Homo sapiens: one gene and its partners. The protein of the gene in region 1 purifies or fractionates together with the protein of each later gene. This does not show direct contact. Each region holds a gene or a part of one and is shown in the gene's direction. Other genes may lie near its edges.

Region 1 (4,111 bases):
CTTGGGCCCTCTGGGACAGGGTCACCCACATCTTGAACATGGCCCGGGAGATTGACAACTTCTACCCTGAGCGCTTCACCTACCACAATGTGCGCCTCTGGGATGAGGAGTCGGCCCAGCTGCTGCCGCACTGGAAGGAGACGCACCGCTTCATTGAGGCTGCAAGGTCGGTCTCCTGGCTTTGCTGCCTGCCCCACTGTGGCTTCAAGCGGCCTCCGGTGCCCTCCTCCTGCCCACTCTGCCATCAGCTGTGCCATTCCTTCCAGCCCTCAGTGTCCTTCCCTCCTTCTCTACTCTCAGTTGGTTGTGAGCCCTTCACCTGCCCTCCCCTGCAGGAGGCGGGATCCTTCATGGTGAGGGGAGGGTGCTGAACCTGGCCTGCTTCCACAGAGCACAGGGCACCCACGTGCTGGTCCACTGCAAGATGGGCGTCAGCCGCTCAGCGGCCACAGTGCTGGCCTATGCCATGAAGCAGTACGAATGCAGCCTGGAGCAGGCCCTGCGCCACGTGCAGGAGCTCCGGCCCATCGCCCGCCCCAACCCTGGCTTCCTGCGCCAGCTGCAGATCTACCAGGGCATCCTGACGGCCAGGTATGGGATGGGAGCGAGTGGCAGGGGGTGAGTAGGTGGGTTTGCTGGGGGTGGCTGCTGGGTCACTCAGAGCTGACTCAGGGCCACCTCCTCACAGCCGCCAGAGCCATGTCTGGGAGCAGAAAGTGGGTGGGGTCTCCCCAGAGGAGCACCCAGCCCCTGAAGTCTCTACACCATTCCCACCTCTTCCGCCAGAACCTGAGGGTGGTGGGGAGGAGAAGGTTGTAGGCATGGAAGAGAGCCAGGCAGCCCCGAAAGAAGAGCCTGGGCCACGGCCACGTATAAACCTCCGAGGGGTCATGAGGTCCATCAGTCTTCTGGAGCCCTCCTTGGAGCTGGAGAGCACCTCAGAGACCAGTGACATGCCAGAGGTGAGGCTGGGGCTGGGGGAGCTCAGCTTGCAGGGGTGGGGGCCATAAGGAGGGAGATGGGGAAAGACCAGGATGGGCGTTTGACTGTAGACCTGAGCAGGGCGTACCCGGGCTAAGTCTGGCCCGCCCATGCAGGGTGTCCTGGGAGGACCCAGGGGGCCTGGTCCCAGCCTCCTTCACAGTCAGCCCAGTATCTCTTAGCACCCGGCGTCTCCAGCCTGTCCCATGAATACCCCTGAAGATGGGGACCAGCCACGTCCTGGGCCCCTGAGAGCAGCTGAGATCCAGTGAGGGCAGGCGGAGGCACTGTAGGCACAGGCTGGAGAGGGGTCACGGGGGCAGGGCAGGAAGCAGTGCCTGTTTCCAAGGCTCCTGGGTGAGCCAGCCCCAGCCTCGATCGCGGGCAGGTTCCAGCCTGACCACAGGACTAGCTGTCTCAGGGGCAGGGCTGCCTCCCCAGGCCATGAGCTCCACAGGCCCCTGCAGGCCCTGGGGGCGATCTCTAACCCCATGGTGGGGAGGCTAAATTAATCTCTGAAGCCCCTCCCTGGTCTGAGGAGCAGCACCTCAAAGGATGGGGTGGGGAGGAGTCTGCGCACTCACGCCGCCCAAGTCCTGCCTAAGTCAGCACCCTTGATGCTCAGTGCTGCGGGCACAAGCCTAAGCCTGGGAGCCAGGCCCTGTCTGGGACTCAAGGCCAAATGGCTGACTTGGAGGAAGGAGCATCCACTGAGGGCAGGAACATTTGGGAGAGGCTTCCTGGAGGAGGTGTGGGTGGGGAAGGATAGGGAGGCGTGGTGGGTTGATGGGCGGGTGTGGGCGTTGCTAAAGGCAAGAGGTCCTCACCCAGCACCGGACGCACGCATCCACCCAGCCCAGCTCAGGGGCTGGTGCCGGCACGGGTTTCACCTGCCGGCTGCCTACGCAAAGGCAGAGAAAGCATAGGAGGGGAGGAGGGCAGGGAGGCCTGGGTCTCCAGGGAGCTGAGGAGGGCTTCTGGGGGCCAGAAGGAAGCTACAAGCAGGTAGGGTTCAAGGAGCGGGGCAGCAGGGCTGGGGTGTTGTCCTCCCTCCCGAGGAAGCGTGGCTGTGGACAGCTTGGCTTTTGGCGTGCGTGCCACAAACATTCCGGCCCTCGCCTCCTCCTGGCTCTGTGCTTGGCACCCCTGCCCCAGATCTTCCCGGCTCTGTGCTTGGGCACCCCTGCCCCAGAAAGGCCTCCCATGGCTTCCGTATCCTCACACCTGTCCAGGTCTTCTCTTCCCACGAGTCTTCACATGAAGAGCCTCTGCAGCCCTTCCCACAGCTTGCAAGGACCAAGGGAGGCCAGCAGGTGGACAGGGGGCCTCAGCCTGCCCTGAAGTCCCGCCAGTCAGTGGTTACCCTCCAGGGCAGTGCCGTGGTGGCCAACCGGACCCAGGCCTTCCAGGAGCAGGAGCAGGGGCAGGGGCAGGGGCAGGGAGAGCCCTGCATTTCCTCTACGCCCAGGTTCCGGAAGGTGGTGAGACAGGCCAGCGTGCATGACAGTGGAGAGGAGGGCGAGGCCTGAGCCCTCACACATGCCCACGCTCCCCTGACACTGAAGAGGATCCACAACTCCTTGGAGAAACACCCTCACGTCTGTTGCCGCACACATTCCTCTCAGCTCCGCCCCATACCCGTCACTACAGCCTCACCTCCCACCCCTGTCACTACGGCCTCACCTCCCACCCCTGTCACTACAGCCTCACCTCCTACAGCCTTAAGTCCCAGGCCCATGTCTGCCTGTCCAAGGGCTCAAGACTTTCTAACTGGGATGTGGTAGAGGGACTGAAGGTACCTTTGGGGGCAACAGCACCCTAGTTTCATTCTCAACTCTAGCCCTGCACACTCACCTGTGGCACGGAATGAAAACAGAGCTTCCCGTGCAAAAAGGGTCACGCCTCCCACCCCCGCCCCCTCCCTGCACCTCCTGTCCTCTCCCAGTTCATTCCTGGAACCAGCCAGGCCAGGCAACCAGTGGCCCCCAAAGGCAGGCAGGATCCTCAGGCCCCAGCCGCGGGAGGCTGGAAGGGCTGGCAGATCGCTTCCCTCATCCACCTCCACCGGTCCAGGTCTTTGCTGCTGTCCCCAGACCTCCTGTGACACCACGCCAGATCACAGGGCACCAGGCCAGAGATAGTCTTCTTTTTGTCCTTTCTGGCCTCTGGCTAGTCAGTTTTTCATAGCCTTACAGTATCTGGCTTTGTACTGAGAAATAAAACACATTTTCATATTTGGTTATTTTCAATGTGACGATGAAGCCATCTGTGTTGCAGTCAGACCCTTCTCTGCTGGCTGGGGAAGGTGGCCGCCCCTTCCTCCCAGCAGTCTCCTCACAATTCCAAGGTGGCTCGTGACAGACCTATTTGGGGGAGTGCCGTGTTTGGGCGTGGCGTGGGAGGAAGATTGGGTAAGAGAAGAGAGGAAGTCAGTGCTATCTCCCCATCTCCTGGGGCAGGGCCTGGTAAATATGACCTGCTCACACCCACCCGCTCAGACAGGTCGGGCAAGGGAAGAAGTCGTCAGCGGGCAGCAGGCATGTGGCTCCACTGTGAGAGCTGGAAGGGGTTACTCATGAGGAAGTGCCTACCTGGACAGGACCAAGCCTGTTCCAAAAGCGAAGCCTCCTTGGGACACTCGGCGCCAGGTTCTCTGGCATGTTTTGGGTCCCAAGAATCACCTTCCTCCTGCTACAAAGCAAAGGGCCTGACTTTCCAAGCCAGGCTATTGCGGCCTGGGAAGAAGGACCCTTGGTGACACTTCCCCTCCTGCCCAGGGGTTCCTTCTGCTCAACTTTAGTGTCCAAGAAGAGTTAGTCATTCCATCTTTTTTTTTCTTTTTTTGAGACAGAGTCTGGTTCTGTTGCCCAGGCTGGAGTGCAGCGGCACGATCATGCCTCAGTGCAGCCTTGAATTCCCAGGCTGAAGAGACCCTCTCACTTCAGCCTCCTGAGTAGCTGGGACCACAGGCACACCTAGCTAAGTGGTTGTATCTTTGTCACTTCCTTTTTTTTTTTGAGACAGGGTCTTGCTCTGTCACCCAGAATAGAGTGCAGTGATATGATCTTGGCTTTCTACAGCCTCAACCTCCCGGGCTCAAGGGATCCTCCTGCCTCAGCCCCTGAGTAGT
Region 2 (4,329 bases), on another chromosome or scaffold:
AAGTAGCTGGGATTACAGGCATGCACCACCATGCCTGGCTCATTTTGTATTTTTAGTAGAGACGGGGTTTCTCCATGTTGGTTAGGCTGGTCTCGAACTCCCAACCTCAGGTGATCCACCTGCCTCGGCCTCCCAAAGTGCTGGGATTACAGGCATGAGCCACCGCACCTGGCCAATTTTTGTATTTTTGATAGAGACGAGGTTTCACCGTGTTGACCAGGCTGGTCTCGAACTCCTGACCTCAGGTGATCCACCCGCCTTGGCCTCCCAAAGTGCTGGGATTACAGGCATGAGCCACTGCGCCTGGCCGTATCACGAATATTACATCAATACATTAATATGTATCAATACATTAATTGTGTATTTTGCTTTTTTTTTTTTAAAGTCTGAGTAGAGCATCATTTATTAATAAGGCTTATATTATATTTTTATTATTGCAAAGTAACTTATGTCTGGTTCAAAACTACCAAAAGGCTTATAATAAAATATACTTGTTCCTTGCCCTACCCATCCTCAGTCTTCTTCCCTAAAGGCTTTCAGTTTTTTCAGTTATTTATTCTGGCATTTAAAAACACCTGTATTTCTTGGCCGGGCGCGGTTGCTCACGCCTGTAATCCCAGCACTTTGGGAGGCCAAGGCAGGCGGATCACGAGGTCAGGAGATCGAGACCATCCTGGCTAACACGGTGAAACCCCGTCTCTACCAAAAATACAAAAAAAAAAATCAGTTGGGTGTGGTGGCAGGTGCCTGTAGTCCCGGCCACTTGGGAGGCTGAGGCAGGAGAATGGCGTGAACCCAGGAGGCAGAGTTTTCATTGAGCCGAGATCGCGCCACTGCACTGCAGCCTGGGTGACAGAGCAAGACTCCGTCTCAAAAATAAATAATTAATTAAATTTAAAAAAAAACAACAAACACCTGTATTTCTTTTCTTTTCTTTTTTTTTTTTTTTTTTTGAGATGGAGTCTCACTCTGTCACCCAGACTGGAGTGCAGTGGCATGATCTTGGCTCACTGCAACCTCTGCTTCTCGGGTTCAAGTGATTCTTCTGCCTCAGCCTCCTGAGTAGCTGGGACTATAGGTGCGTGCTCCACACCCAGCTAATTTTTGTATTTTTAGTAGAGACAGGGTTTTACCATATTGGCCAGGCTGGTGTCGAACTCCTGACCTCATGATCCGCCTGCCTTGGCCTCCCAAAGTGCTGGGATTACAGGCGTGAGCCACTGCGCCCAGCCTAAAAACACCTGTATTTCTAAGAACAAGAGTATGGTGTTATATTTTTAGTCACTTATTTTAGACGTTACCTGTCGACTCTGCTAAATTAGTATTTAGTATTTACGTGATTATGCTTATGCAAATATTAGTTATAACTGAGCAGTTTTATTTCTTTTTGTTTTTCCTAAGGGTAATAATTGCGTTTGCTTTTCATGTGTTTGGGGCTTTTTTGTATTTCTTGCTCATTCCTCCCACACCTTTCAGTAGCCTCACCACATCAAACAACTTAATGATTAAGTAATTTATCAGTTCTGATTTGTTTTGGAGACACTTTTTCTGAAGAGCACTATTTTTCTTTCAGGGCTTATTGCTCTGCAGATCTGCTACAGAACTGTCACCTGGGACTTAACTTTCCTATCATCCTTAAGATTTCTTTGTCCTTTCTCCAGGGTTGACTTTTCTGTTTCTTGATTCTCATATTCTCATATTTCTTGGTTTATTTCCTTGCACAGTAGTACATCCTTCTGTACTTTTAGCAGATTAAAAAGCTGGTACAACACTAGAGGGCATGGGTGATGATAGTCTTCAATGAATTTCACATCTTTCCTTTTCTTGGTCTACTCTCTTGTTTTGGTGGACATCCTCTAGTAGATTTCAGAGAAAGAGTGTATAGGAAATAAATTTTATTAATCCTTCTCTTCTGAAAATATAATTATTGTAGCTTCACTCCTGATTAATAGTTTGGCTGGGAATACAATTCTAAGTTGGAAACAATTTTTCTTATTTTACATTCAGTGTTGCTTTTGAGAAATCCTAAACTGTTCAGATTTTGATCCTATTGTATGTCATCTTTTTTTTCCGCCTTGCCAGAGCTTGTAAGAGTTTCCCTTTGTTCTAAAGGTTCTAAAACTATGAAGTACTTTTCTGTGGGTCTATTTTTCTTCATTTTTCTGGGTACTTGTTGGATCCTTTTGATCTAGAAACCTTGGCTGTTCAGGAAGTTTTCTGCAATTATGTCATTAATTGTTTCGTCCCTCTGTTTTCTATGGAATTTTATTATTCAGACATTGGACCTCTTGGACAGACCATTTAAGTTTTTTTTCTTCTTTTTTTCATCTGTATGTCTTTTCCTTCTTGAGAGATTTCTGCACCTTTATCTTTCTGTCTTCTCTATTTTGCCATCAAGGTTTTAATTTCTTTCTCTTTTTTTAAAGTTTTTAAAATCAGGCAGTCTTTCATGCCAGAGAAGGCTCAGAGACTCCAAGGTTTTAATTTCTAAAAGTTCATTTTTGGTTTTTGAATTGTCCTTTTTAAAACATAATATCCTCTTGTTTCATGGGTTGTAAATATCTCCTCTCTGTTTTCTCCATGTTATTTTTCTTTTTATGTGGTCTCTGTTCTGCATGTTAAAGGCTTTTCTTAGGTGTCATGTAATTCTTCATTGTAGTTTTTTTATTTGGGGATGAAAAAGGTGATTGACAGTTTGGAATATATAGGTGGGGTTTCTGCATGGAATATATAGGTGGGGTTTGTTGACTTTGAGCAGTACTATTGAATGATGTGGGTGGGCCTTTTGTTGGGGAACCCTTGATTTAAGTATCCTTTTGGTTTTCCTCGTCTGTGAGCGAGATTCCCCAGAGAGTGCTCTTCCAATCTCCTGCCTGAAACGAAAGGACTGGCTGCCAGCATTCCTAGAGCTAAGTGGTAGAAGGTGGCTGAGTGGCTTCTCATTCAGCTGTTTTCAGGACAGTACTATTTTTAGATTATAGTGCCCATGCCTTCAACTTTACTAGTCAACTCGTAATCCAAAGGCTTTCTGTTTTACCCTTTCCAGAGATTAACCTCTGGATTTCTACTGCAGATGGAAAGGAGATGAGTAGGCAGGGAGGAAGATCTATTTCTCAACCAGTTTTTACTTAGTCCTCCATAACCTTAGTATCCATCCCCAGTTGCAGATCCGTTTGAGGATTCTGCAGTGTAATCACTTTGGCTCTCAGCTTTCCCCACTGTTTAGGATTTATCTTTTTAAATTCTGCTAAGTTAGTTTCTACTCATCTGTCTACTTTCTAATTTTCTAAAATTTGGGTCTTTATGAATTTCTTTCTCTCTCTCTCTCTCTCTCTCTTTCTTTTCTTTCTTTCTTTCTTTTTCTTTTCCTCCTTTCCCTCCCTTCTCTTTTTTCCTTTCCTTTCCCTTACTTTCCCTCCCTCCCTCCCTCCCTCCCTCCCTCCCTCCCTCCCTCCCTTCCTTCCTTCCTTCCTTCTTTCCTTCCTCCCTTCCTTCCTTCTCTTTCCTCTATGCTGCCCAGATTGGAGTGCAGTGGTCTGATCACAGCTCACTGCAGCATCAACTTCCGGGGCTCAAGCGATCCTCCCGCCTCAGCCTCCTAAGTAGCTGGGACTACAGGTGCACACCACCATGCCCAGCTACTTTTTTTAGATTTATTTTTAGTAAAGGCAAGGTCTTGCTATGTTGCCCAGGCGTGGGTACATCTCTTTACTATGGTTTATTGGGATTTAGGGAAAGAGGGAAATTAGATATGTGTGTTTAATGTACCATCTTAACCTGCAAATTAGGCTTATATTAATAAGGACTATTTTCCTTGCAAATAATAGAAGTCCAATTCAAACTAGCTTAGGGGAAAGGTCATTGGCTGCAGAAGCTGGGAAGAATAGCTCAGGATGAAGGAACAGGAGTGAAGGAACAACTGCATGAACCAGAACCTCAAGTTCTGAAACCATAACTTAGTACTACCAAAGTAGACTCAGCATCACCAGGACATATACAAGTTGTGTGTGTGTGTGTGTGTGTGTGTGTGTGTGTGTGTGTGTCTGTGAGTGAGTCTGTCTCACGAGTGCATTTTTAAACTTTGCAGACAGATTCTTACCCTGTGCTGAAAAGCTGATTGCTTACAGCCCTGAACTTAACAGTCTCTCACTTTAATAACCTCATTGTAAAGAGAGCCTCTTTGCCCCATCTCTAAATATAAATATGAGGGAAAGAGTCTTACTGATTTGGCTTTGGTCCTATGACTATCCCTAAACCAGATAAAATGGGGGAGGAATTTTCTAGGGGAAAGAGGTACTTTTATCAGAACAAAGGGAGTAGAATGTTGTA
Region 3 (2,966 bases), on another chromosome or scaffold:
ACTAGAGGATAAATGTCAGGAGCTGGAGACGAATGGTTGCTGAGGACATACTGCACCTGCCAATGAACTATGAAGAGGGAATCAAGGTCTTAGAAAAGATATGGTTATCTTAATCATTGACATAACTTGTGGATTTTTCTCCTTGAACTCTTCCTCCCTGTTCCCTTTACTGGCGGTTGTTGCAAGATGGTATTACCGTATTTAACTGTTAACTACTTATTGTTCCTCAGGTGAAAGAACTGCCTATCCTACAAAAAGAACTTATAGAAACTAAACAAGCCTTGGCCAATGCCAACCAGGATAAAGAAAAACTTCTTCAGGAGATTAGGAAATATAACCCCTTCTTTGAGCTCTGAAACCAGTGGCTCAGCCATCTGTGCCAAGGAGAGAGGCTATCACCAGCAATAGCACCACCTAGGACAGAGGGCACTGTCCAGTGCTGAATAAGTCACTACGGATGCCAGAGGGACTGGGGAGCACTCACTTCACTTGTGTGGGTGTGCTTTCCACTAGCTGTTCTTACTTGGACTGAGGACAAGGGCAAAGCATGATTGTATCCCAGGAAACTGGGGCTTGCCCTGTGTGTGGCACAAGCATCATGTCTTGCCTGTATAAAGCCTTTTGGTCCTCTGTGTACTAGGTGGAATCTTCTCAACACTGTAGGGCCATTTCACCTCATGGTTTCATGGCAGGGACATTTGCTTCCTTCACAGGCCTGTGTGAACAAGCAAAAGTACCCACCTCCTCGGTCACCCACAGAGCCACCAAAGATTCCATGTCCCAGAGCTTCCCATAGCAGACCTGAAAAGTCCATGACCTGAGCTTTGGCCATGGTAGTGGAGTGGAACAGGAAATAGTCCAGCAGAGGAGTGTGGGGGAAGGGGGCAGGAGAGGCACAAGAATAAGGGAGACCTGGACTCTGCCTTTTTGGGAAAAGGAACCAAGCTCATAGCAATTTGGCTGATAACACAATCAGATTTTTCCAGGTTAAGCTTCCTTTCTGTTATACTTTCATCATTGTGATGCTGTGGTAGAAAGTAAATAACAGTAGTGGCTCAGTCATTTAATCTTTCCCCTCTATAATACAACTTACTTGAAATTTAAATCAAGAAAAAATTTCTGACGCTGAGCTAGGTTGGTGGCATGATATGCCAGGGGTCAGTGGGGGAGCTTGCTTCTGAGCCCCCTGTTGTCCGCCTGGAGTCCTGCTTGTCTTTCCCAGCTGTGCTGAGTGGCTCTTCTGTCTCCCTGGGGTCCCTGGCACATCTGCTTTCCCAGCTCTGTGACCTTACCAGTTCTCTCCTCAGCCCTTGGTGGTTTGGGAGCTGAATATATGTTTTAAACTTTTACATAAACAACTCAACCTGTTGCCTCTCACTTCCCTCCATCACTGTGGCTTTTAAAACTCATGTATTTTGACTCAAGTGAAAAAAACACAAAAATCCCTCATCCCAGCTAGGTTTTGCCCCCTGCCCTATAAGAGAGCTATTTCCCCCTTTCTTTCCTTTGAATTCTTCTCCAACACCATCCCTTCATTCATACTGCCCTGTGATACACTTGAAGCTGTGTTGATTGGACAGACGTTCATCAGCTAACTTACCTTTACTTGGCAAGATGGTAAAATAGTAACTTAGTGATGTTACTAAAGTCTCGACCATTCACCTTTCCATACTGAAGGAAAGGTAAAAAGGTTTCTTCTATGGGAAATTATGCTTGACTTGCATACTCTAGTTTGATGAGGATAAAAAGAAACATGTAATTGCAGTGGTGTTTACAACTAATTGATCACAACCAATCATAGATTTCTTTGTTCCTTCTCCACTCTCAACACTTCATTTGACTAGAAAAAAAAAATGTATTCACCAAGGAACAGGACCCAATTTGTTCAGACTTTTGTTAAGTTTCTTTACTAAGGCAATTTTTGAAACACCAGTTACTATGGGATGGTGGGAATTTTTCATGCTTAAGAAATAGAGACTTAGGAACAAAGAAACATCTTTCTGGAGAAGATGCTAATGGGAAGTTACCTAAGGCTTGATGCTTGGTTCAACCTTATTTAAAATTTTTATAAATGACCTGAAAGTAGGATTTTACAGTGAAATCAAATGTCACTACTTCCAGGCAGTGAAAGGTAATCTAGAAGAGGTTTAAAAAACACAAAACCGGTCGGGCACAGCGGCTCACGCCTGTAATCCCAGCACTTTGGGAGGCCGAGGCGGGGAGATCACGAGTTCAGGAGATCGAGACCATCCTGGCCAACATGGTGAAACTTTGTTTCCACTAAAAATACAAAAATTAGCTGGGTGTGGTGGTGGGTGCCTGTAGTTCCAGCCACTCGGGAGGCTGAAGCAGGAGAATCGCTTGAACCCGGGAGGCAGAGGTTGCAGTGAGCCGAGATAGCGCCATTGCACTCCAGCCTGTCAACAGAGTGAGACTCCGTCTCACAACAAACAAACAAACACAAAACCACAGAAGGGTTACTAATAAGCAGGGCTGAGAATACTCAGAAAACTGACAGGTGAGGTTCAACATAATATAAGGAAATGTATTTATGGAAGAATTATCAACTGATATGCCTGAACACTGTTAGAACTCAGGAAAGAAACAAGCATTGCTGAGGGGGAGGAGAGATCAATGTGCTGCTGTGGCCAAAAGCCTAATTGCCCTGTGGGCATCATCAGGAAGGGCTTTTGGAGATAACAGAGAACAGCACTTTATACAAAACCATGGATATGTCTTGATCGGATTATCTGTGTTTCTAGTGACCTTATTTACAAGATATATGATAAAGGGAGGAAAGGTCCAGAGAACAGCCAAAATTATCAGGGGATGGAGGTATATCCATATGAGGACACATTTTTAAAATATAGACTCTATCCTGCAAAGATGAAAGCAGAGGGGAGTTAGATCAAATATCCAATCAAGAGCAAGGACCCGGTCCTGTACTACTAGCTCTAGGGCTCTAT
Region 4 (4,329 bases), on another chromosome or scaffold:
CTCCCAACTGTCCTGCACACCCTACCCACCATTGCACATCCAAATCCTACCCATACCATGAGACTTATTTCATATACCACCTCCTTCACTGACACTTTCCCTAATTCCCTCTCTCCCCTGCTCCAGCCCCACTCTGCATCAGAATTAATTTTGCCCCTCTCTTAATTTTCATGCACTTTATGCCTCTTTTTGATTGCATTTTTCATTTCTCATGAGTTATTTATATCCTGGACTATAAGCTCCTTGTGGCTGTGGACCATGCCTTACTTATTTGTCGCATCAGAGTGCCCAGGTGTGGGACTGCTTGCCTGTGATTCTAGGAAGCCCCCAGGCGACTTGAGAGGCACTGCTCTAATCAGCTACCTAGAGACCCGTAGAGGATGAATTTAATCCCATTGAAACACTGCTAAGAAAAAACCCAATAATATTGTTAGCCTTTATCTGTTTGTTTATTGCCCCATTTTTCATCCTTAAATATTCCTTTATGTACTTTGTATTTCACCTGGTTCCAGATTGGGAAGAAAGAAAAAGAGGAAAGAAGCAAGATTCTACATCATACCACTACCATATTCCTTCGCTTTCTAGTATGTTGATGTATTTATGTGTTATCAGAATTCCGGGTTTCCTTGAAAGGTCTTAGCTGCCAAAAAAATTCCCAGAGGACATTTTGGGATTGTCTGATAGTTTAGATGTTGTCAGCACTGCTCTCTCGGCAGCATTGTTATACTTTAGAAGCCAGGTTGAAGCTTACTTCATAGATTCATCTGAGATGTGCAGGAGGCTGAGTGACCTGAAGGGACAGTTTGGGGCCAGCCTGGGACTAGAACCTGTATCTTTCTGTTCTGTCACATTGCTTGGTCAGTCTGAAAGGTGCTTTTAAGAGGATGTGCTTCCGGCCCTTTTCCTGAGTCAGTACAGTCTTTTCAGGAAGCAATCTGGGAGGCCTGTTTAAAGATCAGTAGAACCCCATCTGTTTCAGACTTAGATGATGAAAATGTAGGATTTCCGATAGAACTGGTGTCTAAGAGCATGAAAATAATATGATTATTTTCAAAAGTTTAGTTCAATTCAGCAAACATTTAGTGAGTACCTGTTTACATGCCTGTTGCTAAAGTAGGTGTCCTGGATGAATAAGACTTTGTCCTTGCCCATACAGAATTCAGCGTAGTGAAGATGACCAACTTGTACCATGTTACTTATTTTAACTGAAATAGGTAATTTATTCATATGGTTCAAATTCAGAAGTTACAAGTGTATGTGTACATACACAGTGAAAGGTTTCCTCCCCAGCGGCAACCACTAGTGTGAGTTCTGATGTATTCTCCAAGGATATTTTTTGCGCGTATTAACAAGTAAATGTTCACATGTATTTCTTCCTATTTTTTCTTTTTGCTGAAATGGTACTTTATTGTAATCACCCTTCCTTTTTTTATTTTCTGCACACTATTCCATCGTATGGATATACCGTAATCTACCTAGTCAGTTCTTTATGTTTTAGGGCATTTGACCAATGCAGTTTTAGGTGCTGTAGGTAGAATGGTGGAGGGGAGCACAGAATGCTGTGGGAACCTGCAGGAGAACCCTTCCAGCCTGTGAAGGTTGAGGAAGGTTTCTTGAGCATATCTGAGTGTCCAGAGTAGAAGGACGGAGGCAGGGCAGTCCAGGCAGAAGGAACAGCAGAAGCAAGGGTAAAGAGATTTGAATCTGCTGATGTGTGCAGGGCAGCTGTGAACAGGGATCTCACGGTCTCTGGAGTATAAGCCATACGGTTAAGAGTAGCACAGATGAAGCACAGTGTGCCTTGGTATCTGGACATACATTTGTGGTGAAAATGTTCTTGTCGTTTCTTTGGTTGCCAACTTAGTACCAAGCACCTTGAGGCACAGAAAATAAGCAAAAGGCTTACTTGCTGTCTTCAGGGAATTTCAGTCCACTCAGGAGAGGAGCTCACTGTGCTGTGGAGGTCAGCAGGTCTGGAGGGACAGGAAGGCTCTGATGAGTAAAGAAGGAGTGAGGGTCAGGGGTCATGCTGGTGATGTGCCACCCGGCACATCTATGTAGAGGCTTCTGTCACCACTATCCTACTGGATGCCCATGTAGACCTCATGCGGTAGGTTATTTTCCCCACTTCTAAAGACACATAGGCTCTGAGAGGTGAGACAGCTGCCCCAGATCCCAGTGTGGGGGACAGGCAAAGCATTTTCCACCACTCTGCACCTCTGTGAACTGAGGAAGACTTAGACCAGCAGTTCTGTGTCTCTTGTTTGTCTCTGTTGCACTCAGTATCTCTTCATTGATGTTTCATTTCTTCCTTCCCAGAGAACAAGGTACATGGAAGTCTTGCTTTTCCTGGTGTGACCCAAATGAGAGCTGATTGTGGCAAAGGGGCAAGATTCCCAGAGTAAAACTAAAACCAAGCACCTTTCTCTTTACCCAAACTAGGAGTATTCTGTGAGAATTTACAGCTGTGAAGCCTTTGTTTCCTTCACCCAGCTTCCACCTTCTAAAGAATTTCTCAATTTTACATCTGTTGCTAAAAACATTTCTGGTTAGGCTTTTTGGATTAAGTTTATGTCTTCTTTTCACTGTTTCATTCATTCATCAAGTATTTCTTATGTACCTGCTCGGCCAGGTACTATTCTTGGTGCTGGGAATAAGTAACAAAGCTCTTGGTGCTGGTGGAGTCACATCCCACCTTGGGGAGCTGACAATAAACATGTTAAGTTATATAGTGTGTTACAATATAAATGCTGTTGGAAAGGAGGATCGCTGGACGAGGGGCATTGGGTTTGGGAGTGATGGCAGGAGTTTGCTGTGTTATGGGCGGTGTGAGAGCAGGCTTCCTCGCCAAGGTGCAATTTAAGGAAATACTTAGAGGTAAGAGAGTGAGCTGAGAGGATGCCTGGCAGGAAAGGGAGGGCAGCACTGAGGCCGCTGCTGTGCCTGCCTGTCCATGACAGCGACCTTCTGATCCGCTTTCAGCTTCCTCCATTGTCTCTTCATTCTTTTCATTCCCAGCCACAGCAGAAGTTGAATTAATACATTCGATGATGTATTAGATGAATATAGCATGATCCAGCCTAAAAGTTATAAATGAGTGGAGAGATGTCATAACAAGATGCATATTCCTTGAATATGTTTAGTATAAAACGGGACAAATAAGTCCCTGCCATAGGAATTGACATTCAAATGGAGGATGCAGAAAAAAGACTCCCAAATTTATGGTAGAAACTGGTGTGCCCTTCACAGTGGTTTCAGCAAGAGAGAGAAGAAATGATGTATGAGATAGTCAGAGACTGTTGGCCTGGCGGAAACTTTTCTTCACGTCAGCAGACACTGAGTATCTGCTTTGTGCGGGGCCCCATACTTGGGAATGCAAAGATGAGGAAGACGTGGTCCCGCCCCTCAGGAAGCTTACAGTCGGGTTCTGCTGGGATCTAAACTCGTCTTGGTTCATGCTGCCCCTGCTCCCAGGTTCCTGGCCCCTCTAGCCTGCTTTCCCTGACCTGTCCCATCCCCCACCATGAACTCACTCCCTTTCTTGATCTTAATCCTCAAGAAAGGATGAAAAGATAAGCAGTGTATTTAAACTGATCATTCCTGCAAAGAGCTTTTTCTTTCTCAAATAAGAACCTGTTAACCTCTAAATCCACTTATCTTCAATAGCGCCTTAGGGAGGTGATGGAGAGAGTTCTGGCTGGGGCACCTTCCTTGCTCCCCCTGAGTAGCACTAAGTAATCTCACAGGACAGGCAAGGCCTTTCTGAAGAGGTCTTAGAGTGCAGGGAATTGCATGACAGGTGCTGTTAGCCACCTTGGAAGAACTGCAGGCCTTGCGTGGTGCCACCTTGTTTGCGGGAAGCCCAGCCCTGTCCATTCCCCTGGCCCTAGCATCTGTTTATCTAATAGCAGTACCAATTTTTATTGTTAGGATAAGTTGTAGGAGAAATTAGCAAAGGTTAACTGACTGCTGTGGGTAGACAGTACAATTCTTCTTCAGTTTCTGACTTAGGAGTGTTTCCGAAAAGTTAAGTGAAAACAAAAGTTTGAAGTGTTTCCCTTTTAGTTACATAACAGACACTCATTACGGAATTGAACAGTTTTAGACCCATAAATAATTAAGTTAAAAGCATAACAAAATCCTGTTAGGAAACTGATGAAAAATTTGTTTCTAAAACACTTTAGATTTTAAACTTGAACACGTAGTGAAATGTCTTTTAAAACAATGAAGATGGGTGCAGTGTTCACAGGCCTCTCCACTAAGCAGATGTCTACTGAGAACACAGTATTAGGGGATGTGGGTGGTAGAAAGATGCAGTGGCCAAGCCTC
Region 5 (3,847 bases), on another chromosome or scaffold:
GTAGTTTTATTACTGAGATACAGAGAAGAGGGCAAGTATGCCATAAACCCTAAGACAATTTTCTAAAAATAAAATAGTATCAATACAAGTATTTTAAGTCACATCAGAATAAGCACAAAATTTGACCTGTAACAACTGTATAACTGCTGCCAATTTCTGATTTCATTTTGTTTATATGGATGATAGATTATTTTGATTTGTATTCGTATGTGTGTATATGTTTTTTCTCTAAGGAAGGAAGTTTGTTAACATCCTGATGTGCTTTTGGTATCTAACCAGTGCCAACATCCCCAGTGAAACTTTAAGAGGAGCCAGTGTATTCCAGGTTAAGTTGGGGAATCAGAATGTGGAAACTAAACAACTTCTTAGTGCAAGCTATGAGTAAGTTTAATCAGATTTCATTGTTTCCTTTCTTCAGAAAATGGAAGGTAGTGTGAAGGTATGAAAACTAAGAGATCTTTAGGAAGAAAAGAATTGAAATTTGACAAGTTATTTATGAAGAGAAAAGGTCAGAAAGACACACTGGATATGAAACAGGAGAGTTAAGAAATTAGAAAGAGGTAAAGTTGCTGAATTTAATTAAATGATGTTTTAGCTGTCTATTGCTGCTTAACAAACTACCCCCAAATTCATTGGCTTCAAACAGCCATTGACTTTGCCTGCTATTTCACTGCTCAGAAATTTTGGATAGGCTCAGTTAGGGGGTTTTCTCTGCTTCACCTGGCATCAACACGAGTGGCAGGAGCTGGAGGATTCATTTCCACAGTGACTTCTTAACTCGCATGGGTGGCACCTTGGTACTCCTTGGCTTCTGCATGACTCTGTATTCTCCAGGGCCACTCTTTGTGGCTTGGACTTGTGGTAGTTTCAGACTAGTCATATCTTTCATATAGTGGTTGAATTCTAGGAGGCAGAAAATGGAAGCTGCTAAACCAGTAAAGGGCTATGCCCAGAATTAGAACATCAGTTCTGCCATAGTCTACTTGTCAAAGCAGTCAAAGGATCTGTATAGTTTAAAGGGTGTAGAAAGACTCCCCCATTTTTTGGGGCAAAAACCAGCAAGGCCACATAGCAGAAGAGCACATGGGAGGGGAGATATGGTTGTGGTCATTTTTGGAAAATAAAATCTGCCATAATTGGTACATGAACAATTTATTCACTAGACATCTGTTGGTCATCTGTGTGCCCACATGCTCTGGTAGAGGTTCAGATACAAAGTTGAAGGGATACTGCCCTTAAGCACATACTGTATAGTAGGAAGTTAGCAAGTTACGTAAAAGAGACATTATATTGTATTTTTATGCGAATAAAATCTAGAACAGTGAACTGCTGGAGCAAGTCAGTGAAGATATAATTTAACATTTATTAAAAAAATATGTTGCCAGAGTTACACAAATCTGCTTCAAAATAACAAACCCCAAAAATGACCTAAGAAATAAAATGTATTCTGTTTTACTAAGGTAAAAGAGAATTATATCCTCATTTTTTTTTTGCTCTTCTTAAAAGAAATGTGTTTTTTTAAATTTTGCTTTATTTGTAATTACCCAAAATATTCTATATATTTAAATACTTAATTTAAATCTACTGAATTGCCTGTTAAGAAATAATTTTTAAAGAGCACTGTCGTCAATACTAAACTTTATCTTTTCTGATGTTTCTTACTAAGACTATGGGTACTTCATAAACATTGTTATTTTCAAGATTGATTTAATGTATGTAAACTAAATTCCACTATTTATTCCTAAATTGGTAACAGTGCTATTTGAAAAATAGCTTTTTGCCTGTATCCTAGGTTATGTATTTAAAGTGCTGTTTGCATCACCAGAGTCCAGTTTATCTGTCCTCATATTAGGCATGTGTTATAGCTAGTATTTAACACATACTAGCTATATGTGTTATTTATATAACACATATATCCAAGTTTCTCTTAGGGGCTGGTAGATGTTGAATATAGATTAGTCCATTAAAAATACTTACATTACTTGAGAATGTACTTCAATTTTGTGGGTATATTTATTGTGATTGAATGGGTAGGTTAAACTTTTTTTTGTTTTGATTTTGATTTAATATTAACCATTATCTTGTTGCCAAAAATTCTTCTAAATATACACTTGCAAATTACATAGTTATCTAACACATACTTGGACTGATGTAAGATTTACATTATTTGCAATGTCTTTCCTAGGTTTCAGAGGGAGTTCACACAAGGAGTAAAGCCTGACTGGACCATTGCACGGATTGAACACTCAAAATTATTAGAATAATTTTCTTGGAAAAATCAGCTTATGGACTTTAGCAGTTGCTGTGAAAAACTAAGGAAGAAAAATTTTGGGGTCATTTGATCTTCACTTAATCTAAGTCTGTGAATTACTTTTATATTATTTTGAAATACTCCTTGCAGTATATTGGCATGATACAGTAAAAGCATTTTCCACAGATTGTTATCACCTTCTTTAAAAGAAGTCAAAATTTAAAAAATACAATAGCACGTTGTTGGTGTCATATTCAATAACATTTCCAATGCTACATATAATTTTATAGACATAATAAAGAAGGTATTGAAAAAACTACTTACAAATTTCTTTATATATTTTTTAAATTGTTTGAGAAACAGGGTCTTGCTCTGTCTCCCTGGATGAAGTCCAGTGGCATGATCATAGTTCACTGTAACGTCGAGCTCCTGGGCTTGAGCGATCCCCCTGCCTCAGCCTTCAGAGTAGCTGGGACTACAGGCATCCACCAGCATGGCTGGCTAATTTTAAAAAATTTTTATAGAGATTTCACTATGTTGCCCAGCTGGTCTTGAACTCCTCAAGTGGTTCTGCCTCGGCCTCCCAAAGAGCTAGGATTATAGGCATGAGCCACTGCACCCAGCCTACTTACACATTTCTAAATTAATAGTTCTTAAATATTTTATTTGTGGCTAATACATTTACACTTTTTTTTTTGACGGAGTCTCCCTCTGTTGCCCAGGCTGGAGTATAGTGGTATGATCTCAGTTCACTGCAACCTCCACCTCCTGGGTTGAAGCAATTCTCCTGCCTCAGCCTCCCTTGTAGCTGGGACTACAGGTGTGCACCACCATGCCCAGCTAATTTTTTTTTGTATTTTTAGTAGAGACAGGGTTTCACCATGTTAGCCAGGCTGGTCTCGAACTCCTGACCTCAGGCAATCCGCCCGTCTCGGCCTCCCAAAGTGCCGAGATTACAGGCGTGAGCCACTGTGCCTGGCCTTATACCTTTATTTTAAGTATGTGTAAGATTTATTCATTTATTTTTTAATCACTGCTGCTATTTGGCCTCTTTGGTCACTAGCTAGGTAAGAAGGAATAGATGAAATTATAGCAGATAGGTCTCTACAGAACTGAAAATCAGTGAATTTAAAAGCATGCTAAGATACAAAGAGAGAGAAAAAAACAGGACAGTGTCTTAGCCACCTATGGGATAATATCAACTATTCTAATATACTTGTATTTTGTGTCCTAGAAGTTGGAGTAGTGGAAACAAAAATAGTATGTTAAGAAATAATGGCTGAAAAGTGTCCTAGTTGATGAAAACTATAAGCCCACAGATTACAAGAAATTCAACAAACAAGGTAACACAGAGAAAAAAGTCTGATCAAGGTACATCATAATGAAATTGTTGAAAACCAGAGAAAGTTGCAAAAGCAGCTGGAGGAAAAAAATAAAGGTACATTCATGCAGAGAAACCAAGATAAGAATAGCTACCTATTTTTCTTAAACAGCAAGTTAGAGACCTTGGCATGCTATCTTAAAAGTGCTGAAAAAATAACCGGTTTACCTAGAATTTGATATTCAGCAGAAATCTTCAAAAAGTGAGAAGACTCA
Region 6 (4,329 bases), on another chromosome or scaffold:
AGCCAGTTTTTTCTCAGCCACATCCACTTCCTTGCTTCCTTCTTACTTTGAAGTAAATCCCAATCATTATGTCATTTCATCTGTAAACATTGAGGTATATATGTCTAAAATATATATGTGTTTCTAAAAACATTTTTTTAAAGATAATGTCAACCCAAGAAAATTAATAATACCTTCAAATCATCAAATAGACTGAGTCTTTTAAAAATAGAAATTCGGCCGAGCATGGTGGCTCATGCCTGTAATCCCAACACTTTGGGAGGCTGAGGTGGGCGGATCACAAGGTCAGGAGTTAGACACCAGCCTGACCAACCTGGTGAAACCCCGTCTCTACTAAAAATATAAAAATTAGCCAGGTGTGGTGGCATGTGCCTGTGTAATCCCAGCTACTCAGGAGGCTGAGGCAGGAGAATCGCTTGAACCCAGGAGGCGGAGGTTGCAGTGAGCCGAGATCGCGCCACTGCACTCCAGCCTGGGCGACAGAGCAAGACTCTGTCTCAAAAAAATAAAGTAAAATAAATAAAAATAGAAATTCAAATAGTTTATCATGGTCACCTAGCTTTAAAATGCGCTTACGTTGTAGTGTATTGTGTATTCTAGCTTCCTTTAAAACCATATCTTTTAAGCATGTGTCTATTTCCTAATTCAGAACTTTCCAATCTGTATCCTGTGAGTAAGTCTTCTTGGCTTTCAGGACAGCTAGGGCAGGAACCTGATCCAGTGGACCGTACAAACTACATTTTCTGAATGTGCTGTAGCATGGGAAAAAATTGGCAAGTCCTGCTGTGAGGAATTTCTCTTGTGAGTTTAAGACAGAGGAGTACTTCTACCCTTAACCCTCAAGGTCAGGAAAATGGCAGCACTGACTAAATAATTACCTTTGCTTAGAACTTGCAGGAACTATTTAGATTTCTCTTTAGGTGTTTTCCCATACCTTACATGCAATGCAGGTACACTTAACTTAGATGTCGTATAACTCAAGCATTTTCAGACTTGTTCACTTAAATAACTCCTGAAAGAATTTGACCAACAGCATTCCCTTATGTGTTTTAAAGTTGGCATCTGAAATATTTAATTAAGAAATTTAAACAGTTGTAAAGAATAGTCTCTGTTGGGCCGGATGCCGTAGCTCATTCCTGTAATCCCAGAACTTTGGGAGGCTGAGGCAGGTGAATCACTTGAGCCCAGGAGTTTGAGAACAACCTGGACAACATGGCGCAACCCTGTCTCTACAAAAAATACAAAAAAAAAGAAAAAATTAGCCAGGCATGGTGGCGTGTGCCTGTAGTCCCAGCAACTCAGGAGGATCACTTGAGCCTGAGGGTTTGAGGTTGCAGTGCACCGTTATTGTACCACTGCACTCCAGCCTGGGCAACAGAGCAAGACCCTGTCTCAGAAGAAAAAAGAATAATCTCTGTTGGTGATAAGCATTGACATTTTGAAAGTAATTCGGAAAGAAATCTATAAAATTTAAATACAAGATACCATAGCAACTTCTTACCTGCCGTCTTTCATATGAATAATTTGGACACGACAACTTTAAAAAGATAATCAAGAAATTTAAATTCAGTCTGGGTATTAGATGATACCAAGGAATTGATTTTGTAAAATATGAAAGTGGCATTGTGGGTATATAAGAAAATATCCGTAATTTTTTACATTTCATAATAGTTAAAAAGGAAATGTTTCTTTGGTACTTTTTTTTTTTTAGTTATGGCGTTTGGTTAGCAACAATGTGACCATCACTTAATTGCCCTTTTTTTTGTTTAAATTTATAGGGATTTGGGGATATTTATACTACTTATCAGTCACCACATGATATTGTCTTAAAAAAATAAATGAATAAACTGTTAACCAACTTGGACATTTTACACGCATCCTGTTTCTTCTTCTTCTTCTTTTTTAAAAAGACAAGAGTCTCATTCTGTTGCCCATGTTGGTGTGCAGTGGCACAATCACAGCAGCCTCGATCTCCAAGGTGGGGAGATCAAGTGATCCTCTCACCTCAGCTGGGACCACAGAAGAGCACCACCACACCCAGCTGATTTTTTTTATTATTATTCTTATAGACATGGGTCTCCCTACATTGCCCAGGCTGGTCTGGAAATCCTGGGCTCAAGAGCTCTACCTGCCTTGGCCTCCCAAAGTGCTGGGATTACAGACATCAGCCACCCGACCTCCTGTTTCTTTTTTTTCTTTTTCTTTTTGAGACAGGGTCTCACTCTGTCACCTAGGCTGGAGTGCAGTGGCATGATCATGGTTCATTGCAGCCTCGATCTGCTAGGCTCAAGCCATCCTCCTGCCTCAGCCTCCCGAGTAGCTGGGACTGTAGGTGCATGCTGCCATGCCTGGCTAATTTTTGTATTTCTTGTAGGGATTTTGCCATGTTGTCCAGGCTGATCTCAAACTCACAAGTCAGCCTTCTATTTGTTAGATTCATTTGCAGTTTACTTCCTCAACAGAATTATATTCTGACATATTTTATCTTGAAGCCTTAGTCACTTTGACATTCTTATTTGCAAGAACATTGTGTATGTAAATTGAAATATGGAAAATGGTGTTCTGTGATATGGCTCTTAAGTGTTTTTAGAGTCTTCTGTGTTAAGTTACTATTACAATTATTAATACACAATTGAACAAAATAACATTTATTACAGACGTTTTATGTTTATATATTTTTAAATGCATTTCTTTGACACATTTTTATTCAAATAGTTTCATATCCATGGATGACAATTACTTATCCCTAGAGTGAAATGGGATTCAGCACCAATTCCTAATTTTTATTTTTTAGAGGAAGTACTAACAGACCTTGTTTACATTAGTAAATAAGTTGATGGAAGATTTGTCATAGCAATATTGCTTAGTTCTTGGAACTCCTTTTGAGTTACATGCCAGAAATCATGTAATCTATCATCAAAAATTATGGGTTTTGTTTGTTTCAAGGTGGAGTCTCTCTCTCTCACCCAGGCTGTAGTACACAGGCACGGTCTCGGCTCATTGCAACCTCTGCCTCTGGGGTTCAAGCGATTCTCCTGCCTCAGCCTCCCCAGTAGCTGGAGATTACAGGTGTGGGCCAGCACGCCCGGCTAATTTTATTTTTTATTTTTAGTAGAGACGGGGTTTCACCATGTTGGCCATGCTGGTCTCAAACTCCTGACCTCAAGTGATCCACCCGCCTCAGCCTCCCAAAGTGCTGGGATTACAGGCATGAGCCACTGCACCCAGCCCAAAAATTATGTTTAATGATCCCTTAGCTAAAACTCAATTAGGCCATTTTTCAAGGTTTTTTTTTTTAAAGCAAAGAATTTAAAACCTTTTGACATGCAAACGAATTTATTCATTTTTTTTCAGGCATTTGCATTCTCAAGACTGACACTAGTATTTCTTTTTCTTTTTTTTTTTTTTTTTTTTTGAGACGGAGTCTTGCTCTGTCGCCCAGGCTAGAGTGCAGTGATATGATCTCGGCTCACTGCAACCTCTGCCTCCTGGGTTCAAGTGATTCTTTTGCCTCAGCCTCTCGAGTAGCTGGGATTACAGGCACGCACCACCATGCTCAGCTAATTTTTGTATTTTTAGTAGAGATGGGGTTTTGCCATTTTGGCCAGGCTGGTCTCAAATTCCTGACCTCAGGTGATCTGGTCTCAAACTCCGACCTCAGGTGATCTGCCTGCCTAGGCCTCCCAAAGTGCTGGAATTACAGGTGTGAGCCACCACGCCCATCCAGACACTAGTATTTCTAATTGTTTCTTTTTCATTATCTTGGAGCTTTTTACACTCTAGTTTCAAAATGGTTGAAAATATGCCTTTCTTTTATAAAGTGGGACAAGGGCAGTTGTGAAAGGGGGGAGATGGGAAAAAAGCCTTGATGGCCAGAGGTACATTCTTATGAAGATCAATTTTTGGAAAAATCTATATGTGGAACTGAGTATCTGGAATTTGATTCTCTCTTGACTGACCTTTCTCAGTGTACTCCTTGACAGTGTTCCTGTTTCCCCAGGGGCGTGCTTGTCCCAACTGAAGGCCACTGGTATAATGGACTCTTTGTAGTAATTGGCTACACCTTTCTAAAACAAGTGGTCCCGTTTAATTAGCTACCTTAGGGTGAAATGAAATGTAGGGAACGAGTCTAAGTCTTTCTTGATGGTAGCTCTCTCCTCTTATTTCTGCATTTATTAAGGTATAAGAACTCTTTGCTCTCATGTGACTTAAAATCAGCAGCTGGAAATATTCTTGTTGCAAGATAAGTGATTAAGCCTCAGGAAAATACCTTGCTTTCTAAGGTCTGTCTGGCCTAAAATACCCTTGTAGCTGCTGTTGGGTTCCAAA
Region 7 (4,329 bases), on another chromosome or scaffold:
TGCAAATTCTATAAAGGCAGGTTATAAGTACATATATGAATAAAGAGGGGTGGGTGGGAATTATGTGGAAAGGAAAAGTGTGTTCCTTAGCTAGAGCAAGAAGCTGCAAATTCTTTGTTGCCATCTGAGAATTTGGGTCTAAAATTGCTTAATCTTTTGGATTTTTTCAAGTGAAATTAGAACTATCCTTTTACTTTGTCTTCATAACTACTATTTTAAATAGATGTATAGTACCCATTCTTGTTCTTGTAACATATTTTGTTAAATCATTTTTTCTATCATTGAAAGCTTTAGTTGTTTCCAGGCTTTCCTAGTATAATTAACTCAGCATTGGGTAGACTTGTTTAAGAAAAAATAATTAGTTGTTGTTGAGTCTGAGTTACATGAACATTTTGTGGCTTTTGCTGTGGATTCCTATATTTTCTTCAAGGAGTACAATGTCACAAACAATGTATTAGTGTACTCATGTCATAATATTGACAGATTTAGTTATTATAATTATTAAAAATTATTTTTCCGGGACGGGCACGGTGGCTCATGCCTGTAATGCCAGCACTTTGGGAGGCAGAGGTGCGTGGATCACCTGGGGTCAGGAGTTCAAGACCAGCCTGGCCAACATGGTGAAACCCTGTCTCTACTAAAAATACAGAAATTAGCCAGGCGTGGTGGTGCATGCCTGTAATCCCAGCTACATGGGAGGCTGAGGCAGGAATCGCTGGAACCTGGGAGGCGGAGGTTGCAGTGAGCCGAGATCATGCCATTGCACTCCAGCTTGAGTAACAAGAGCAGAACTCCATCTCAAAAAAAAAATTATTTTTCCTCTAGTAGGTATAAAATAATGTGTTTTGTTTTACTTCATATGTATTTTATTTATATTCTTTTCTTTATTTTTTGAGACGGGGTCTCCCTCTGTCACCCAGGCTGGAGTGCAGTGGCACGATCTTGGCTCACTACAACCTCCACCTCTCGGGTTCAAGCAATTCTCCCGCCTCAGCCTTCCAAATAGCTGGGACTACAGGCGCATGCCACCACGCCTGGCTAATTTTTTGTATTTTAGTAGAGACGGGGTTTCACCATGTTGCCCAGGCTGGTCGCGAACTCCTAAGCTCAGGCAATCTGCCTGCCTCAGCATCCCAAAGTGCTGGGTTTACAGGCGTTAGCCACCGCGCTCAGCCTGTATTCATTTTTTAATTGACAGAAATTGTATTTATGGTACGCAATATGTTTTGAAATATATATACATTGTGAAATGGCTAAATTGAGGTAATTAACAAATTTATACCTTACGTACTTACCATTTTCTGTGGTGAGAAGAGTTAAAATTTAAATCAGGTGCAGTGGTATGCACCTGTAGAGCCAGCTACTTGGGAGGCTGGGACCTCAGGAGGCTTGCCTGAGCCCAGGAGCTTGAGCCTGTAGAATGCTATGATAGCACCTGTGAATAGCCTCTACACTCTAGCCTTGGCAACATAGCAAGGCTCTGTCTCTTAAAAAAATCTACACAGCAATTTTCAAGTATAAAATACATTGTTATTTCCTATAGTCACCATATTGTACAATATAGCTCTTGAATTTATTTCCATATATTTTTGATTACTAGCTTCTCAGGGCTTAAAATATTAACATAGTTTTAATTCTAATGGTCACAATGAATTACTTCACCTTTTATATTGATTTTTTTCTTATGCAGGAAATTCTTGGTGCATCACTTTCTGCACCTTTAACATCATACAAGGTGATCTATGTTCTCCCAATGCTAACTATTAAGGAGGATAAAGGTAAAGAGTTTATTTATTTCTAGAAATATTTTGATAAACACATTTTGGTTCTAGTTATTAATTCCACACTTTGTTTTCTAAGGCACTGGTGTGGTTACAAGTGTTCCTTCCGACTCCCCTGATGATATTGCTGCCCTCAGAGACTTGAAGAAAAAGCAAGTAAGTATCTGAGTTTCATGTTTGTATTTCGTCCTCACCATCTCATTGCTTAGGTGCTGCTGAACTACGCTGTGGGACTAGGCTAAAAAGCTATGCATTTATCTTTAAACTGCTATCTCTAACTTGTTTCTTGATGTTAATATATTTTCTGTGGTTTGAATTTTAAATATGTTCACAGAATTTTGAAAAAGCTTTCTGATATTCACATTTTCATTGAAATCTGGCATATGAACCTCAATTTAAGTGATATGTGTATGTCTATGTACATTTTTGCTTTTGGTTGTGTGGTTTCATTTAGGCTATTCACTATAACTTTAGCTATTAAATTTTTGAAGGTTACAGATCCCTTTTGAGATATTTGGCAAAGTTAGAAAATTGCTCTCTATGGAGAGGAGAACAAATAGAAACTTTAAAGAAACTTTTAAGAAACTTTGGAGATTGCTTCTCTCAATGATTCTCCCAGTAAAGTGTTGATCATTAGTGTTAACTTGCAAATTTTTCTGTAGGCCTTACGAGCAAAATATGGAATTAGAGATGACATGGTCTTGCCATTTGAGCCGGTGAGTACATAGATAATTCAGAATATTCACATCCATCTCTTTATCAGAGAAAAAGAAGAGCTAACATGTTTTCCTTATAACAAAATTAATTGGTGGAGTATGAAAAAGAGAGTTTGCTTAAGGATTTACTCACTTTAATTTGATACCTGCTATGGTAGATAAGAGCAAAAGGAAAACTAACAAGCATTTTCTTACCACCTGGCACCTGCAGTTCTGGAACAAATAGCTTTTTAGCATCACCAATTTTATAGTAGCTTGCTTTGCTAGTGTGATCAATTTCCTGGCTTCTAAAGATAAAATTTTGCCCTTTTCATGAATGTTTATATGTAACCATAATAACTTTAACAAAGTCCTGTACAACTCTGTTTTATGTTTCTTGTATTTTCATGTTAGTATCTATAGAAGAAAAACTTTTAAATTACTAGCAAATGATTTTCATTTCATGAAAGATCCAGAGGAATTAATATAAACCAAAAGCACAACCATCCATGAATCTAGTTGTTTACATCAGCAGGCCCCAACCTTTTTGGCACCAGGGACTGGTTTTGTGGAAGACAATTTTTCCATGGACCAGCAGGGTGTGGTAGGGGAATGGTTTTGGCATGAAACTGTGCCACCTTAGATCATCAGGCATTAGATTCTCATAAGGAGCAAGCAACCTAGATCCCTCCATGCACAGTTCACAATAGGGTTCGTGCTTCTATGAGAATCTAATGCCACCCATGATCTGACAGGAGGTGAAGCTCAGGGGGTGATGCTCGCCCGTTCCTCACCTCCTGCTGTGCAGCCTGGTTCCTAATGCCATGGACTGGTACCGGTCCACATCCTTGGGGTTGGGAACCCCTGGTTTACATCATTTTGCTAGTTTCAGTATGAATTACTTAGGTAATTATATGCCAGTGGAGGATAGAGTGTTGGGAAAGGTGTGTGTGGTGGGGGAAGGGCATTGGGGGTGTTGGTACACAGAGTATGGGTGGTTCCTGTGGAGAGTAGAAGGACAAATTTACATCTGGAAGTTAGTCACTCTGTGATTACTTAATGTGTGGCAGTGTCGTAATGACATATACAATCTGAAATGACTTAATTGGACATTAGAGGCAAAAGGACTTGTGCCCTACAGAGCTGTGTGTCCAGTCAGTGTGAACACGTTCCTGATTGCTGTTTGCTGCAGGTGCCAGTCATTGAAATCCCAGGTTTTGGAAATCTTTCTGCTGTAACCATTTGTGATGAGTTGAAAATTCAGAGCCAGAATGACCGGGAAAAACTTGCAGAAGCAAAGGAGAAGATATATCTAAAAGGATTTTATGAGGGTGTAAGTAATAATTTTTTTTAGTTTTTATTTGCTTTACTCCATGCTCTGTGATTTTCTTAATTAGAAAAAATGTAGAAAAATTTAACATAGTTTCAGCTATACATTGATTTGAGAGCTTAATATGAGAATGTATTCTATTTCCAAATTTCTAATTTTTGTTTTTATCATGTCCTTTGCCTAAAAGCATTTTCAGAAATTGTCTTTTTCGTGCCCTCTAGGAATCTCTATGGAGTGAATTTCTTGACAAGATATTTCAAATTAGTTCATATTATTATGCAGTAAACTTCAAAGATTTATTGAATGGAGAATACCTGGTCCCTTCTTTTGCTCTTTTAGTTAAGGAGTTCATATTTTAGATAAGCAGTTTTATTCAGTCCATTAATTTATTTATTAATGTCTACTAAATGCCAGGTGAGTTCAACAAACATGTTCTGAACCATTCTTTTCTCCTAATTGTGCATATGTTAATGTGGTTTATATTTCCATGGAAAGAAGGCTAGGCTAGAGAACATAAAAATCC

Evidence for each region.
Region 2: the proteins of SSH3 (region 1) and SLC4A1AP purify together in Homo sapiens (affinity purification with mass spectrometry; one large-scale study listed by BioGRID and IntAct). This does not show direct contact.
Region 3: the proteins of SSH3 (region 1) and BLTP3A purify together in Homo sapiens (affinity purification with mass spectrometry; one large-scale study listed by BioGRID and IntAct). This does not show direct contact.
Region 4: the proteins of SSH3 (region 1) and KIAA0232 purify together in Homo sapiens (affinity purification with mass spectrometry; 2 studies listed by BioGRID and IntAct, with this or other methods). This does not show direct contact.
Region 5: the proteins of SSH3 (region 1) and MAIP1 purify together in Homo sapiens (affinity purification with mass spectrometry, with the first as the bait; one large-scale study listed by BioGRID). This does not show direct contact.
Region 6: the proteins of SSH3 (region 1) and CALU purify together in Homo sapiens (affinity purification with mass spectrometry, with the first as the bait; one large-scale study listed by BioGRID). This does not show direct contact.
Region 7: the proteins of SSH3 (region 1) and LARS1 fractionate together in Homo sapiens (co-fractionation; one large-scale study listed by BioGRID). This does not show direct contact.

What each region holds. Positions count from the first base shown.
Region 1 is NC_000011.10:67,309,378-67,313,488, forward strand, and holds the end of SSH3 (protein phosphatase Slingshot homolog 3), read left to right. Parts: intron 1-19; coding exon 20-166; intron 167-390; coding exon 391-591; intron 592-688; coding exon 689-962; intron 963-2,213; coding exon 2,214-2,510; 3' UTR 2,511-3,215; downstream 3,216-4,111. UniProt on the Homo sapiens protein: Protein phosphatase which may play a role in the regulation of actin filament dynamics. Can dephosphorylate and activate the actin binding/depolymerizing factor cofilin, which subsequently binds to actin filaments and stimulates their disassembly.
Region 2 is NC_000002.12:27,669,989-27,674,317, forward strand, and holds part of SLC4A1AP (kanadaptin), read left to right. Parts: intron 1-4,329.
Region 3 is NC_000006.12:34,872,083-34,875,048, forward strand, and holds part of BLTP3A (bridge-like lipid transfer protein family member 3A), read left to right. Parts: intron 1-230; coding exon 231-356; 3' UTR 357-2,966. UniProt on the Homo sapiens protein: Tube-forming lipid transport protein which probably mediates the transfer of lipids between membranes at organelle contact sites. May be involved in the retrograde traffic of vesicle clusters in the endocytic pathway to the Golgi complex.
Region 4 is NC_000004.12:6,865,680-6,870,008, forward strand, and holds part of KIAA0232 (uncharacterized protein KIAA0232), read left to right. Parts: intron 1-512; coding exon of another isoform or gene 513-584; intron 585-4,329.
Region 5 is NC_000002.12:199,961,548-199,965,394, forward strand, and holds the end of MAIP1 (m-AAA protease-interacting protein 1, mitochondrial isoform 1 precursor), read left to right. Parts: intron 1-233; coding exon 234-381; intron 382-418; exon of another isoform or gene 419-560; intron 561-2,185; coding exon 2,186-2,264; 3' UTR 2,265-2,570; downstream 2,571-3,847. UniProt on the Homo sapiens protein: Promotes sorting of SMDT1/EMRE in mitochondria by ensuring its maturation.
Region 6 is NC_000007.14:128,763,032-128,767,360, forward strand, and holds part of CALU (calumenin isoform a precursor), read left to right. Parts: intron 1-4,329. UniProt on the Homo sapiens protein: Involved in regulation of vitamin K-dependent carboxylation of multiple N-terminal glutamate residues. Seems to inhibit gamma-carboxylase GGCX. Binds 7 calcium ions with a low affinity.
Region 7 is NC_000005.10:146,151,342-146,155,670, reverse strand, and holds part of LARS1 (leucine--tRNA ligase, cytoplasmic), read left to right. Parts: intron 1-1,690; coding exon 1,691-1,778; intron 1,779-1,860; coding exon 1,861-1,937; intron 1,938-2,443; coding exon 2,444-2,497; intron 2,498-3,668; coding exon 3,669-3,809; intron 3,810-4,329. UniProt on the Homo sapiens protein: Aminoacyl-tRNA synthetase that catalyzes the specific attachment of leucine to its cognate tRNA (tRNA(Leu)).